Regions from separate parts of the Homo sapiens genome. Here region 1 is linked to region 2. Evidence: fine-mapped expression QTL. Tissue or cell type: whole blood. Region 2 holds a variant in brackets; the other region holds the start of a gene. All regions are shown on one strand. Distances are between the middles of the regions.

Evidence for each region. PIP is the estimated chance that this variant, and not a neighbour inherited with it, causes the effect.
Region 1: ZNF605 starts here. The variant in region 2 is fine-mapped to the expression of ZNF605 in whole blood (INTERVAL, PIP 0.94).

What each region holds. Positions count from the first base shown.
Region 1 is chr12:132,951,852-132,959,954 of GRCh38, forward strand. It overlaps ZNF605 (zinc finger protein 605), which reads right to left and starts at 4,455. Exons shown (of 5, transcript NM_183238.4): 1 at 4,392-4,455. LOC124903064 (a long non-coding RNA gene) reads left to right here and starts at 4,698. Exons shown (of 2, transcript XR_007063552.1): 1 at 4,698-4,879. RefSeq lists enhancers at 3,173-4,003, 3,432-3,726, 4,004-4,832, 4,586-4,665 and a silencer at 4,086-4,425.
Region 2 is chr12:132,613,799-132,621,901 of GRCh38, forward strand. P2RX2 (purinergic receptor P2X 2) reads left to right here and starts at 4,978. Exons shown (of 11, transcript NM_170682.4): 1 at 4,978-5,191; 2 at 5,641-5,776; 3 at 5,881-5,952; 4 at 6,046-6,121; 5 at 6,202-6,298; 6 at 6,469-6,549; 7 at 6,647-6,785; 8 at 7,203-7,333; 9 at 7,457-7,547; 10 at 7,677-7,742; 11 at 7,821-8,103. The coding sequence starts at 5,019. The variant TTGTGTGTG/T (reference allele first, on the strand shown) is at 3,188.

The DNA of each region.
Region 1 (8,103 bases), 340 kb after region 2:
ACACACTATACTCACACTCATACACACATACACACTCATACACACATCACACACATTCAAACACATACGTACATCACACAATACACATTCCCACACACGTACATACATCACATACACACACGTTCACACACATCACACACACACAGTCTCATTTACTCGCTACGAAAGCAGCATTTGCTGAATTCCTATTACACACCAGGCACTGTTCTGAGCACACGGGAAAGACCACTCAACAAGATGTACGGTGTCTCTGCCCTCTAGGGAAACAGCCAAGTAAATAAATGATTTCTGACTGTGAGCGCTCAGAAGAAATTTTAACTGTGGGCCAGGCGCGGTGGCTCACGCCTGTAATCCCAGCACTTTGGGAGGCTGAGGCGGTAGGCAGATCACTTGAGGTCAGGAGTTCGAGACCAGCCTGGCCAACATGGTGAAACCCCATCTTTACTAAAAATACAAAAAATTAGCCGGGCATGGTGGCGGGCACCTGTAATCCCAGCTACTGGGGGCGTTGAGGCGGAAGAATCACTGGAACCCAGGAGATGGAGGTTGCAGTGAGCTGAGATCACGCCACTGCACTCAAGCATGGGCGACTCTGTCTCAAAAAAAAAAAAAAAAAAAGGAAATTTTAACTGTGACCAAGGGATGAATGGGCAGAAGATATTCCTCCCAGACGTCGTAGAGGCTTGTGGGAGGAGGTGGCTTTTAGCTGAGCCTGAAGCAGGAGCAGTCCGCCACGGAAGGCTGGGCCGACCACACCACTCCAGGCACCTCAGATGCAAAGGTCTTGGGTGGGGGAGCCGGAGGTCATCAGGAGGGATGGAAGAGGCCTAGGAGGTACAAACAGCAAGGGGGAAATTCTACAAGGAGAAGACCTTAAGGCCAACGGGGTCACTGAGAACTTTTAAAAAAGGAAATAATCACGTAAAAAGAGTGATCACTGATCAGCGGTCACAAGCTACAAGGAGAGGGCCAAAGGGCAAAAAGACCTGTCACTCACGAGAGGCTTGCCTGAGCCAACCCACGACCCATTCACATTCGGATCTGCTTCCAGACCCACCAACACGGCCCTGCCAAGTTCCCCGGATTACCAAGTCCCAGAGAGGGCCTCCATCACACACACACCCCAGACACAAACCACTGAACTCCGCAGCTCCAAGCCCCTGCCAACCTCCAGCATCCCAAGTCCCCCAGTCACTCACAGTGACCACCTGAGAATTCTCCAGGTCCACATCCCAAGACATCCCCAGATCACTGAATCCAATAGGCCTGCTTCACAGACCTCCAGACCACACAACCACCGAACCCCATCAACCCCACTCTCACTCACCCCATGTGCCCCCATCACTCCCACAGGACCACAATGGCTGACTTCACAGGCCACCCAGTCTCTCTCCCCAAGAGGCCGCCCCTCCAGGGCCTTCAGAGACACACACTATGGGTTCCCCAGTGACCATCCAACAAAGACCCCAGGCGGTAACTCTAGTGGCCCCACAACAGCCTCCAGAAACACCTGACCACAGACTCCACAGACTGGCACAGTATAGACCACTAATCACAGATACCCAAAGGCCACTAACTTATTATTATCTTTTTTAAGATGGAGTCTCACTCTGTCATCAGGCTGGAGTGCAGTGGCAAAATCTCGGTTCACTGCAACCTCTGCCTCCTGGGTTCAAGCAATTCTCCTGCCTCAGCCTCCTGAGTAGGTGGGATTACAGGCGCCCACCACCATGCCCAGCTAATTTTTGTATTTTTAGTAGAGACGGGGTTTCACCATGTTGGCCAGGATGGTGTGGATCTCTTGACCTCCTGATCTGCCTGCCTCAGCCTCCCAAAGTGCTGGGATTACAGGTGTGAGCCACGGTGCCCAGCTAAGGCCACTAACTTCTAACTCCACATTCACCGCAAATGGCAAACAAACTCTTAGGCTCCCCAGGCTTCCCTCTCACTGACACCCACAGGGTCCCCAATTTCTCACCCTCACCCACCCGCACACCCATCACAGACACTTGCACGCATACTTGGCATTGATCCCAAGCCCTCCGATCATTCCTCCTCACAGACCTCACTGCCCACCCCATCAGTCATTCAGTCATCTCTGGTACCCGGTCACTAATACAAACAAGCTCCTTCTCACCTGGTTCCAACACCCTCAAATAACAAAGCCAATGCCAGGGCACGAGCCAATAAAACTGTCCCCCATTCAACGATGTACACTGGACCCTTTATTCCTAATCCTCCACAGGCCCCCAGACACTTACCATTCCTACGTCACACCATAGACCTCACAGGCCAGGCAGAGTTATCCCTACAGGCCCAACTGATGACTGGACCTCAGTGACTCCCACAGGGCTTTTAAATACAGATGCCAGACACCATAATCACCAGCACCCCCAAAGCCCCACTTAAGAATCACCACAGACTGAAACCCCAAACTCTGAGTCCCAAAGGATCCCCACAGAACTCAGATACTCCTGCAGATGAGCTGGGGAGGGGAGGAGAAGGGTGGGGAGCGGGGGAGAAGGGGCTTCAGTCACTCCTGCAGGTGAGGTGGGGAGGGGATGAGAAGGATGGGGGAGGAGAAGGGTAGGGAGGGGAGGAGAAGGGTGGGGAGGGGAGGAGAAGGGGCTTCTGTCCTGGGACGAACACACTGGTCTCCATTCACTCACTTCATCAGGTGCCCAAGTCAGGCGCTCACAGAGCCCCTCCCCTGTAACTGACATTCTGAGGCTTGCGCCACAGACCCCCTAAATTAGACCCCAGTCACTCAATGCCCAGGGATCCCTAATCCCTTATCCCCGGGGCCCCCAAGCATTCGCCCCCATGACACCCCATTCTCTAATCCACTCCATGCTGGAGCATTCACTGACATTCCCACAGGCCCTCCCAAACACCACCTGGAAAGGGATTGTGGGGCTCTGCACAAATGCCGATCCCGCAGGCCCCTCCAATGACGCCAAGTATGACCCCCGTTGTCCACGCACTCACAACTTGCAACAGGTCCACCATTAACTTACATCCAGACTCCCTTGTCACAAATACACAGCGCCATTCCTAATGCTTCCATCATAAGATCCCCAAACACAAGCACAGAAACAAACCCCAGCCACTCGCCAGCATAGGCCACCCCATACTCGCCTCCGCTATTGGAGACAGGGGTTGAAAGAGCAACCACTGTTATTCAGCTGTCAAATAAAACATACAACTGGACAGAGCAAAGAAAGACGGTTCCAAAGGGTTATTGGAAGTGGGGAAAAAAAGACGCGGAAGAGGGTTGGGAAGGGGAAGGAGAACGGGCTTCTGGGAAGAACCGTGAAGCCACGAGACTCACGTGCATCTCTGCAAGGCAAAAAGGGTTTTTCTTTCACAGAGAGGTGTGAACAAGGTTAGCAAAGACCAGGCCTGGCCAAGCGAGGTGGAAGTGCGGGCGACCAGACAGCAGAGCGGGGAAAGCTTGACCCTGAGCCAGCCTGTTCTCAGGCGAGGCTGCGTGTTGGCTCAGGCTGGGGATGGGCCAAAGCTCAAGAAAATGGGGAAAGGAAAGAAGCTTAGCTAAAGTTTGCTTAAGGAGCATTTTGCTCCGACCGCTCGGTGGAGTTCAGCCAGTCACCGATGAGGCAAGCGACGGCAACGTGGCAGGTCTGTGTGAACAAGGGGCATCCTGGAGGCTGACCAAAGTCATATAGGGAACGGGAGATCTTTGCAGTGAGCCATTTGCTGGAACCCAAAAGGGTGGGAAATTCCTCAACCTTCGCTGTTTTCCAGGAGCACAGGGCTCTGGTGAAATCCAACACTGTCACAGCCGGCAGGCTTTCCAGTGAATGGAACCCACACAAGCAAGCCCCTAAGCCCTCCAACGCAGGCCCCCGCAGAAGCCTCATCATTCACCCCGCTGGCCTCCAATGCTCACCCAAAGGCATCCAAATCATTCATCAGCAGAGTCCTAATCGCTGCAGACAAATCCTCCACACGGCCTCCCAGGGGCCCCTCTCCCCTGGGGCCAAGGGCAACCTCGCGTCCCCTTGCCCCGCCCGTGCTGCACCCCAAGTCTACAGCGACCTCCATAGGCCCCCAGTGAATCGCCCAGCTGACCCCAAATCTCCCCCGACACCCACATTCAGCGCCCCGCCGCCGCCCGCCCTACAGCCCCCACCCCACCCTCTGCCTCCCACCCCCGCGCGCCCCCAGAGCCCCCGCCTGAGGCCCGCCTTCCGCGCATGCGCCCAGGCCGGTCCGCAGGCCTTTCTCGCCCCAGCCGGCAGCCAGCTCGTTCGCGCTGGGGTCACCGCGAGCCGGTCCGCAGCGGGGTCACCGCGATCCCCGGCGCAGACACAGAGGCCGCCCCCAGCCCCGCCGCCTCGTGGTCCCGCCCCCGCTGCACGCTCCCTTACCCCTCGGACCTCGCAGGGCCGCGGCGGACACGGCCCGATCGGGGACGTGAACGCGCAGAACTACATTTCCCAGCGTCCCGCTCGCGCTGGAACTACACTTCCCGGGGGGCTCGGCGGTGCACCCGCCGGGGTCGCGGATTGGAGGTTTCCGGTTGGAAAAGCCCCTTGGCGGCTAACTGGGGAGGACTGGAAGAAATCTAGGATGGAGCCAGCACTGCTGGCCCAACATGTCTGTGAGAGAACCTAAAGGCGCCTCCAGGAGGAAGCGTCTGCATCTTTTCCTTGTTTTTTTTTTTTTTTTTTTTGGAGGCAGGGTCTCGCTCTGTCACCCAGTGGGGAGTGCAGTGGTGCCATGAACGCTCATTGCAGCCTCAGGCTGGTCTCCGACTCCTGGGTTCAAATGATCCTCCTGCCCCAGCCTCCCAAAATGCTGGAATTACAGGCATGAGTCACTGCGTCCGGCTGCTTTTCCATTTTTCATCGTAGCTGTAAGTAATATCGGTAAATGTTAGTGTTACGTGCGTCCGTATAGGAGACCACCTGAGCAGGCTAAGTGTGAGCAACACGCCTGTTTATTCACTTGGGTGCAAGTGGGCTGAGTCTGAGAAAGGAGTCAGCGGAGGGTGGTGGGCTTGTCATTGGTTCTTATAGCTTTGGGATAGGATAGGCGGTGGAGTCAGCAGCAATTTTTTTTTTTTTTTTTTTTTTTGAGACAGAGTCTCACTCTGTCGCCGAGGCTGGAGTGCAGTGGCGCGATCTCGGCTCACTGCAAGCTCCGCCTCCCGGGTTCACGCCATTCTCCTGCCTCATCCTCCTGAGTAGCTGGGACTACAGGCACCCGCCACCACGCCCGGCTAATTTTTTTGTATTTTTAGTAGAGACGGGGTTTCACTGTGTTAGCCAGGATGGTCTTGATCTCCTGACCTCGTGATCCGCCCTCCTCGGCCTCCCAAAGTGCTGGGATTACGGGCGTGAGCCACCGCGCCCGGCCTCAGCAGCAATTTTTTGCGGGCAGGGGAGGATGTTACAAAGTACATTCACAAGGGCGGGGAGGGTGTATTGTCACAAGGGCGGAGAGGAATGTTACAAAGTACATTCACAAGGACCGGGAATATTACAAAGTACATTATCACAAGGGTGGGGGAATGTCACGATGGCTTGACCATGGTGCGGCCAGCTCAGAGGACCTTACATTTAGTACATCCAATCCAGCAGTATTGACAAAAGGAATGAAAATAGATGATAGGGTTGGGCGCGGTGGCTCACGGCTGTAATCCCAGCACTTTGGGAGGCTGAGGTGGGCGGATCACCAGGTCAGGAGATTGAGACCATCCTGGCCAACACGGTGAAACCCCGTCTCTACTAAAAATACAGAACATTAGCTGGGCGTGGTGGTGGGCGCCTGTAATCCCATCTACTCGGGAGGCTGAGGCAGGAGAATCACTTGAACTCGGGAGGCGGGGGTTGCGGTGAGCCATCATGCCGCTGCACTCTAGCCTGGCAACAGAGTGAGACCTCATCTCAAGAAAAAAAAAAGGAAAAATAAATGAGATGAGGACATTACAGGGAAATAAAATATATTTATGGATATATAAAGCAGTGGCTTGTCCCTGTAGTCCCAACTACTGGAGGCTGAGGCAGGAGGATTGCCTGAGCCTGGGAGGTTGAGGCTGCAGTGAGCTATGATGGCAACACTGCACTCCAGCCTGGGCCACAGAGGGAGACACCTTCTCTTAAAAATATTTTTTGGCCAGGCCAGGCGCGGTGGCTCACACCTGTAATCCCAGCACTTTGGGAGGCTAAGGCGGGCGGATCACCTGAGGTCAGGAGTTCGAGACCAGCCTGACCAACATGGTGAAACCCCATCTGTACTAAAAATATAAAAATTAGCCAGGTGTGGTGGCTCATGCCTGTAATGGCTCATACCTGTAATCCCACCTACTCAGGAGGTGGAGGCATGAGAATTGCTTGAACCCAGGAGGCAGAGGTTGCAGTGAGCTGAGATCTCACCACTGCACTCCACCCTGGGAGACAGAGTGAGATTCTGTCTAAAAAAAAAAAAAAAGAAAAAGAAAAACTGTAAAAGCATATTAGTTTTTTAAAATAAAAATGGGGAGAAACAGGAAACACACTCACAATTGGCAATTTAAAAAATTGAAATGGCCATAAAGACCAAATTAAAGTATATATGAAATAATATTTTGCTCAATTCTATATTAGTAAATTTGGAGCCTGTGAGAGATGGAGTTTTGCTCTTGTCGCCCAGGCTGGAGTGCAGTGGCACAATATCGGCTCACTGCAGCCTCCGCCTCCTGAGTTCAAGTGATTCTCCTGCCTCAGCCTCCCGAGTAGCTGGGATTGCAGGCGTGCGCCACCACGCCCGGCTAATTTTTGTATTTTTAGTAGAGACGTGGTTTCACCATGTTGGTCAGGCTGATCTTGATCTCTTAACCTCGTGATCCGCCTGCCTCGGCCTCCCGAAGTGCTGGGATTACAGGCGTGAGCCACTGCGCCCAGCCACTCCCAGCTACTTTTTGTATTTTTAGTAGAGATGGGTTTCACCATGTTGGCAAGGCTGGTCTCAAACTCCTGACCTCTGGTGATCCATGCGTCTCGGACTCCCAAAGTGCTGGGATTACAGACCTGAGCCACCGTACCCAGCCCACATTGCCCTGCTTCTAACTGAGATTCAACTTTATTTAAGCAAACCAATTCCATGCTCAACAGAGCTAAAATTAAAATTCTGCTTTAAGGTAGTTTTGTTTTTGTTCTCAGAAAATTTTGCTGTTCACAGATTTATGATTTTCACTTTTCTCCGAGGTTAAGCGTGTCATTTATTAAATGACTTACTAGAATTTATACGCCTTTTTTTTTTTTTTTTTTTTGAGATGGAGTCTTGCTCTGTCACCCAGGCTGGAGTGCAGTGGCGCGATCTCAGTTCACTGCTACCTCTGCCTCCTGGGTTGAAGCAATTCTCCCGCCTCTGCCCCCCGAGTAGCTGGGATTACAGGCACCCACCATCATGCCTGGCTAATTTTTTGTATTTTTGTAGAGACGAGGCTTCACCATGTTGGCCAGGCTGGTGTCGAACTCATGACCTCAGGTGATCCGCCTGTCTTGGCCTCCCAAAGTGCTGGGATTACAGGCATGAGCCACTGAGCATGGCCATGGCCTTTTCTTTCATTCCAATTTTGGTCAGGAAAGAAAACAGTTTCTCTCTCTAAAAAAAAATTCCATGGCTTAAGTAAAACTTGTAAGTTTAAAAAAAAAAAAAACTGGCTAAACTCTTAAGTTCAGTTCATTTGGCACATCTGAAGTCCCATTTTAAATGACCAAAGCCAGTAAAAAAAACTTTGTATAAAGACAGAGATAAGTCTTAAAGATAAGACACTCTTTCTCCCAGCCACAAGATAATTTAGTGACTTAGGTTTTGTGAAACTTTAAGCTCATCGTTCATGACATACGTTGGACCCATAAGACTCCCCTCAACAAAAAAAATACAAAAATCTCCTAGTGCCCTAAGTGCCCAAAATTACTGGGTTTCACCAAGACATCTATTGAAAAGTGACTCTTCAATAAATAATCCTTATTAAGCAGCATACCAGATCCAACAACTCTTTCCCTTTCAGTCTTTGATCTTTAAAACAAAAACCCCAAATTATGGACATTCATCCATCTAAAACTGAGTCTTTCCCCTTCAAAAGAAATACAC
Region 2 (8,103 bases):
GCGTGGGTAACATAGGGAGACCCCATCTCTACCAAAAAATAAATAAAAAATTAGCCAGGCATGGTGTCTTACACCTGGAGTCTCAGCTACTCAGGAGGCTGAGGCAAGAGTATCGCTTGAACCCAGGAGGTGGAGGTTGCAGTGAGCCAAGATCGTACCACCACACTCCAGCCTGGGTGACAGAGTCAAATACTATCTCAAAAAAAAAAAAAGAATTATGTTGTCACTTGAGCACAGTGGCTCGTGCCTATAATTCCAGAACTTTTGGAGGCCAAGGCAAGATCAGTTGAGCCCAGGAGTTCGAGACCAGGCTGATGGGTAACCCAGTGAGACCCTGTCTCTACAGAAAATGGAAAAAGTAGCCTAGCGTGGTGGCACGTGCCTGTGGTCCCAACTACTCAGGAGGCTGAGGTGGGAGGGTCACTTGAGCCCGGAGGTCAAGGCTGCAGTGAGCTAGGATTGCACCACTGCACTCCAGCCTGGGCAACAGAGTGAGATCCTATCTCAAAAAAAATTATGAAAAAAAATTATGTTGTCAAACTCATAGAAGTGGAGAGTAGAATGGTGGTTGCCAGAGGCTGCAGAGAGGGTAAAAGGGAATTGCTCCTGAACAGGGATAAAGTTTCAGTTTCAGTTATGCAAAATGAGTATGTTCCAGGTCTGCTATACAACATCACACCTGTAGTTAACAATACTGTATTGTTCAATTAAAATGTTGTTAAAAGGGTGGGTCTCATGTTAAATGTTTTATTACAATAAAAAATAATTTTTAGGAAGAAAGTTGTTAACTGGGTTTTTGTTTGTTTGTTTGTTGTTTTGCAGATATCCTTTAACAGACCTAAAGCTGTGTGATTTCTAGTAATCCACCTTTCAGAGCGTGACTTCCACCCGTCTAAATCCCTGGGAGTGAACTCATGGAGTTCTGGGGGGAAAAAAAATCCTGGGAGGTCGGGTTGGCCACAAAGCCCAAGATGTTCCCCAATTTACTAATTAGGTTAGAATTCCACACAACCAGCACCTCACCACCACCAAGAATTCTAATGGAAACTTTCTTCAGTGAAAACTAACTTCATTTATTTCAAGGCTGGTGCTAATTTTGGTTGTTGACTGCTTTGGCCTCCGATTATGGGAGGTATCCTGGGTGGGAACTGTCAGGGGAAGCTACTTGGAAGGCAGGACTGAGCCGGACCAAATTGCAAGATTCAAACCAGTGAGGAGGCCCAACAGCGGATTCTCCACAGACCCAGCAGAAGCTCTCGGGGGCTGGAAAAGGGCGCCACCTGGTGGCATCTGAGCAGAAGTCAGTGACACGTTTTCACCCACATGTCAGTACAGCTCCCGAAGCAGGTCCAGCGGAAAAGCTCCGGTATGAAGCTTTTCCCTTTACAGTGTGCTGTGAGGGTGTGTAACCACAGTTAATGGAAAGGGACCTCACTGGACTCAATCCAGTGACATCACACATGCCGTGTCTCCCACCCACAGAGAGAACTCCCAGGTCTTGAGTATGTGATGCCTGGAGCCTCATCTACCTTCTGAAGGCATCGTTCAGGCACGCTTTACATATGAGCAGTGTTTGGATTATTAATTGGAAAGGTCAGAACACCGTTTCAGCGGGTATATGAAAGTGATAGCAGCGGTGTCTGGAACATAAAGGAGAGTGTGTTTGTCCACTCTTCCTAGGGACACAGGGACGGGGACACTCCCCACTCTCCCCTGGGACACGGGAATGCTCTCCACTCTCCCCTGGGACACAGGGACGGGAACACTCTTCCCTGGGACACATGGGGACGCTCCCCACTCTCCCCCGGGACACAGGGGGACACTGTCCACTCTCCCCTGGGACACACGGGGACACTGTCCATTCTCTCCCGGGACACACGGGGACGCTCTCCACTCTTCCCTGGGACACACGGGGATACTCTCCCCTGGGACATATGGGCTGTCCACTCTCCCCCGGGACACACGGGGACGCTCTCTAGTCTTCCCTGGGACACACGAGGACTCTCTCCACTCTTCCCTGGGACACATGGGGACACTCTCCAGTCTCCCCTGGGACACATGGGGACGCTCTCCACTCTCCCCTGGGAGTTCCAGAGTGACCGTCATCGTGAAAAATGACAGGGATTGATGTAGTTTCCTGGCTTTTGACATTAACCCACAAACCCAACTACCACTCTGGGTTTTTCCTAGAGCGTAAGCCTTAGCTGACGCCATCCACACATTATGGTGCTGTGGATTTTCCTGTAATGAAAAGGAAAAGATTCAGACAGCAGGAAATAAGGGGCCAGGGGGAGGCTAAGGCTGTCATGATGGCAGAGAAGTCTCAACCCATGATCTTGGAAAAGCTGTCCACATTTAGGATCCCGTCTGCTTCTGGGGAAAACTTCCCTGGTTAGCTTCACCTTAAGGTCTCCGAAAGGTGTACGGTTCCAAGAATCTGGAGGGGTCTTTTTGAGTTTGGGGTTAGCCGATTTTTCTAAAATGTGCACAAGTTCTGGGTCCATAGTTCTTACACACATAATTAGCAAACGTCCCAGAAGGCGGCACGCAGACTCCTTGGATTCAGACAAACCCAAGCCAAAAGGGACCTACTCAAGGCCTCTAACTGGATACAATAGAGTTAAGTTTTGGATCCAATTCAATCCTGGACCCATTCCGGTCTAAGAATTGCTCAAGGCCGGGCGCCGTGGCTCATGCCTGTAATCCCAGCACTTTGGGAGGCCAAGGCAGGTGGATTGCCTGAGCTCAGGAGTTTGAGACCAGCCCAGGCAACACAGTGAAACCCCGTCTCCACTAAAATACAAAAAAATTAGCCGGGCGCGGTGGCATGTGCCTGTAATCCCAGCTACTTGGGAGGCTGAGACAGGATAATTGCTTGAATCTGGGAGGCGGAGGTTGCAGTGAGCTGAGATCACGCCACCGCACTCCAGCCTGGGCAACAGAGTGAGACTCCATCTCAAAAAAAAAAAGAATTGCTCAAAGTAGAGGGCTCAAAACACATGGTCATAGAGCACAAATCCAGCAGAGAGAACTCACCTATGACTCTAGATGCTTTGAGAGATCAGCAGGCACACAGGCCCTACTGAGCATTCAGTGCTCCTAGGGGGTGGCTGGAGGTCTACTTCAGATCCCACTTCTGACACCAAACTGTTAAAACAAAAACTTTGGACAAATTAAATTTAAGAGT[TTGTGTGTG/T]TGTGTGTGTGTGTGTGTGTGTGTGTGTGTGTGTGTGACAGAGTCTCCCTCTGTCATGCAGGCTGGAGTGCAGTGGTGCAATCTCAGTTCACTGCAACCTCCACCTCCCAGATTCCAGTGATTCTCCTGCCTCAGCCTCCCGAGTAGCTGAGATTACAGATGCCACAACACCTGGCTAACTTTTGTGTTTTTAGTGGAGACGAGGTTTCGCCATGTTGGCCAGGCTGGTCTCGAACCCCTGATCTCAAGTGATCCACCCATGTTGGCCTCCCAAAGTGCTGGGATTACAGGTATGAGCCACTGTGCCCAGCCAACAGAGTTTAATTGAGCAAAACACAACTCATGAATTGGGCAGCACTCAGAACCAATGGGGGAGGTTCGAGAGCTCCACTCTGTAATGTGGGCAGGAAGTTTTTATAGATAGAACACAGAAGTGAGATACAAAAAAAAAAAAATCACAATTAGCTTGATTTTGTTACTGCTTGAAATGTTTGCCTTATATGGCATGATCAGATCAGTTAGCAGCCTGTGACTGGCTGAGACCCAGCTATTTGTTCCAAAATATACTCATAGGTTAAGCTTTTAGCTTGTTTCTGTGGTACATTAGGTTGCAGTTTGTTGTTACCTAGAAACTCAAGGCACAGAGGCAGCCTGTTAATTGAGTTAATTTAACAGTTCAAACAAATACTTATGCACCAGTGTTTATAACAGCACTATTCACAGAGTTAGTTTGAAAGCAATCTAAATTCCTTCTTTGGATAGCCTAGACATTTCTCCTGGCCATAAGAAGGGGTGATGCCCTGACACATGCTACAATGTGGATGAACCTTGAAAACATGCTCAGTGAATGAAGCCAGACAGAAAAGGCATTAACCCAGAAACAAATATTGCATTTCCTTGATATGAAATATCCAGAACAGGCAAGTCCATTCACTGAGACAGAAAAGCGACCAGTGGTTGCCAGGGCATGGGAGGAGTGTGGAACGGGTCGTGACTGCTTAATGGATGGGAGTTTTATTTTGGGGTGGGGAAAGTGTTTGGGGACGAAACAGAGGCGGTGGTGGTTGCACAATGTTGTGAATGTCACTGAATTGTTTACTTTAAAATAGTTAATTACATGCTATGCTGATTTTATCATAATAAACTATTTTAAAATTATTTTGTGAAAAACTGTGATGCTTGGGATTTGCTTCAAAATAATGTGGGTGGGGTGGAGGTTCGAAAAGTTACCAAAAAAAAAAAAAAAGAAAGAAAGAAAGAAAGAAAACTCTGGCTTGCAAAGAAGAAAACGGATCGGCCGTGGATCCCTCTCCAGCTCGAGGGCTGGAGCTGCGGCGGAGGCAGGAGCTGGAAGCGAGGCGTCTGCTGGCAAAGGCGGGAGTGCAGGTTGCGCTCGAAGCCCCGGCAGCCGCGGCAGGAACCGGCCTGGACGGGGTGGGGGGCGCCGCGGAGGCCGGCGGGACTTCCCATGTCTTTCTCCTCGAGCTCGGAAAAAGTTCCCACCCGGGGAATCCCGACCCTCCAACTTCGAGACCGCCGGTTCCGCGCTCGGCCCCCACCTGGACCAAGAGCTGGGGCTGGGCTGCCGCGCCCCCGGCTCTGTCCCCGCGAGGCCCCGCTCCCAGCCCCACCTGGGACACCCGGGACTCCCGGGACACCTGCGGGGCGGGGCGGGGCCGGGGCGAGGCGGGGCGGGCTCGAGGCCGCACCCCGGAGGCGGAGCCGCGAGCTACCCGCCCGCCGCGCGCCCCCCGCTCTCGGTGCGCAGCGGGGCCGACCCTCAGCCCTGCAGCGCCTTCCTGGAGGTGGGGGCCGCCCGCGCCATGGCCGCCGCCCAGCCCAAGTACCCCGCCGGGGCGACCGCCCGGCGCCTGGCCCGGGGCTGCTGGTCCGCCCTCTGGGACTACGAGACGCCCAAGGTGATCGTGGTGAGGAACCGGCGCCTGGGGGTCCTGTACCGCGCCGTGCAGCTGCTCATCCTGCTCTACTTCGTGTGGTGCGCGGGGCGCGGGGTGCGGGGCGCGGGGTGCGGGGCGCAGGGGAGGGGCTGGGATTGGGGGCGCTGGGCTGGAGGCGCGGGGCTGGGGCTGGGGCTGGGACCGGGGGCGCGGGGCAGGGGCTGGGGCTGGGACCGGGGGCGCGGGGCAGGGGCTGGGATTGGGGGCGCGGGGCAGGGGCTGGGACTGGGGGCGTGGGGCAGGGGCTGGGACTCGGGGTGCTGGGCTGGAGGCGCGGGGCTGGGGCTGGGACCAGGGGCGCGGGGCAGGGGCTGGGGCTGGGACCGGGGGCGCGGGGCAGGGGCTGGGGCTGGGACCGAGGGCGCGGGGCAGGCCCCAAGAGCCCCGCAGAGCGGACCCGGGTCGCGGGAGGGCCCCTGCCGTGCCTGCGGGCGGGACTCAGCCTTCCCAGGGTCGCCTCCGGAGCCGGCGCCGCCCCTGCCCGCAGGTACGTATTCATCGTGCAGAAAAGCTACCAGGAGAGCGAGACGGGCCCCGAGAGCTCCATCATCACCAAGGTCAAGGGGATCACCACGTCCGAGCACAAAGTGTGGGACGTGGAGGAGTACGTGAAGCCCCCCGAGGTGCGGGCCGCCCCCTGCCCCCCGCCCCGCCGTGCACCCTACCCTAGTGGGCGGAGGGGGCAGCGGCTGCCGCCTGGCCGACCGCCCCCTCTTTCTGAGCCCAGGGGGGCAGCGTGTTCAGCATCATCACCAGGGTCGAGGCCACCCACTCCCAGACCCAGGGAACCTGCCCCGAGGTGAGGGGATCCCGCGGCGCTGGGGGACCCCGCCTCAGCTAGGCGGGCCAGCTGTCCCTTGCGGGGTCCCTGACTGGGCCGCCTCCACCCTAGAGCATAAGGGTCCACAACGCCACCTGCCTCTCCGACGCCGACTGCGTGGCTGGGGAGCTGGACATGCTGGGAAACGGTCGGTGTGCGCCAGCTGGGGCTGGGCGGGTGGGGCAGGGCTGCGTCCCCGCTAATGCCTCAGTGACCTCTGCCTCCCAGGCCTGAGGACTGGGCGCTGTGTGCCCTATTACCAGGGGCCCTCCAAGACCTGCGAGGTGTTCGGCTGGTGCCCGGTGGAAGATGGGGCCTCTGTCAGGTGCACCTGCGCCCCGGCCTGGGGCCCAGCCTCCCCTCTGATCCTTTTCCCCTGACCAGAGGCCAAACGGGCGGGGCAGGAGTGACAAGATCTGGGGAGGGGTGGGGGCCAATGCCAGGCGGGGGCTTTGCGGGAAGAGGGGACTAAACAACCCTTCTGTGCCTCCTCAGCCAATTTCTGGGTACGATGGCCCCAAATTTCACCATCCTCATCAAGAACAGCATCCACTACCCCAAATTCCACTTCTCCAAGTAAGAGCCGCGGGGTGTGGTGACGGCCCAGCCTGAGGGCTGCCTTCTGGGAATGGGGTATTTGGGGTGCAGGTCTCGCCTCCTGCCGCCTCCTCAGGGGCAACATCGCCGACCGCACAGACGGGTACCTGAAGCGCTGCACGTTCCACGAGGCCTCCGACCTCTACTGCCCCATCTTCAAGCTGGGCTTTATCGTGGAGAAGGCTGGGGAGAGCTTCACAGAGCTCGCACACAAGGCAGGGCAAGCGCAGGCAGGGTGGGGCCAGGGTGGGCTCCCACCTGCACAGAGAGGGCCTGGGGTACAGGGGACCAGTCCCTCCTCCCTCCTGACCAGCTGGCCCCGCTCAGGCAGAGGAAAAGAAATGCGATCAGCGCAACCCATCCGGTGTGGCGCTTGCTGAATTATTGACACTGGCCATGGGGCTGGCTGCTGGCACCCCTTGTGCCTCAGACACTGGACGCCCACCAGTACCCCTGAGCTGCCCCATGGGCCCCTCAGTGCACACCTCACATGCAGCCTGGGACTGACCCGGGCTCTCGAGGGGCCTCTCGTGTGCCCTTGTGACCCCCTTCCCTGGCCTGGGACTGACCCGGGCTCTCGAGGGGCCTCTCGTGTGCCCTCCTGACCCCCTTCTCTGGCTCCTTCTTGGCAGGGTGGTGTCATCGGGGTCATTATCAACTGGGACTGTGACCTGGACCTGCCTGCATCGGAGTGCAACCCCAAGTACTCCTTCCGGAGGCTTGACCCCAAGCACGTGCCTGCCTCGTCAGGCTACAACTTCAGGTGCTGTACTTGGGACACCGCTGTCCACACTGGCATAGCTGTGGTGGGGTCCCGAGAGGCCCAATGCCTGTGGGGCAGCCCTGGAGTGCAGAGGACGAGTGGGCACTGGCGTTCCCATTGCAGGTTTGCCAAATACTACAAGATCAATGGCACCACCACCCGCACGCTCATCAAGGCCTACGGGATCCGCATTGACGTCATTGTGCATGGACAGGTGCCTGCACCTGCTGGGGGTGGGTGGCCAGCCCTGCTAGCCTGGGTCTGAGCTCCTCACGCCCCACCCCTCCCTTAAGCCCCATCAGACGCCGTCAGACATTCTGACCACGACCCCCATTCTCCCCAGGCCGGGAAGTTCAGCCTGATTCCCACCATTATTAATCTGGCCACAGCTCTGACTTCCGTCGGGGTGGTAAGGAACCCTCTCTGGGGTCCCAGCGGGTGCGGGGGGTCCACCAGGCCCTTACACACCGGTCTCTGCTGGCCCCAGGGCTCCTTCCTGTGCGACTGGATCTTGCTAACATTCATGAACAAAAACAAGGTCTACAGCCATAAGAAATTTGACAAGGTGTGTACGCCGAGCCACCCCTCAGGTAGCTGGCCTGTGACCCTTGCCCGTGTATTGGGCCAGGCCCCTCCCGAACCCGGCCACCGCTCCGAGGACCAGCACCCCAGCCCTCCATCAGGCCAGGAGGGCCAACAAGGGGCAGAGTGTGGCCCAGCCTTCCCGCCCCTGCGGCCTTGCCCCATCTCTGCCCCTTCTGAGCAGATGG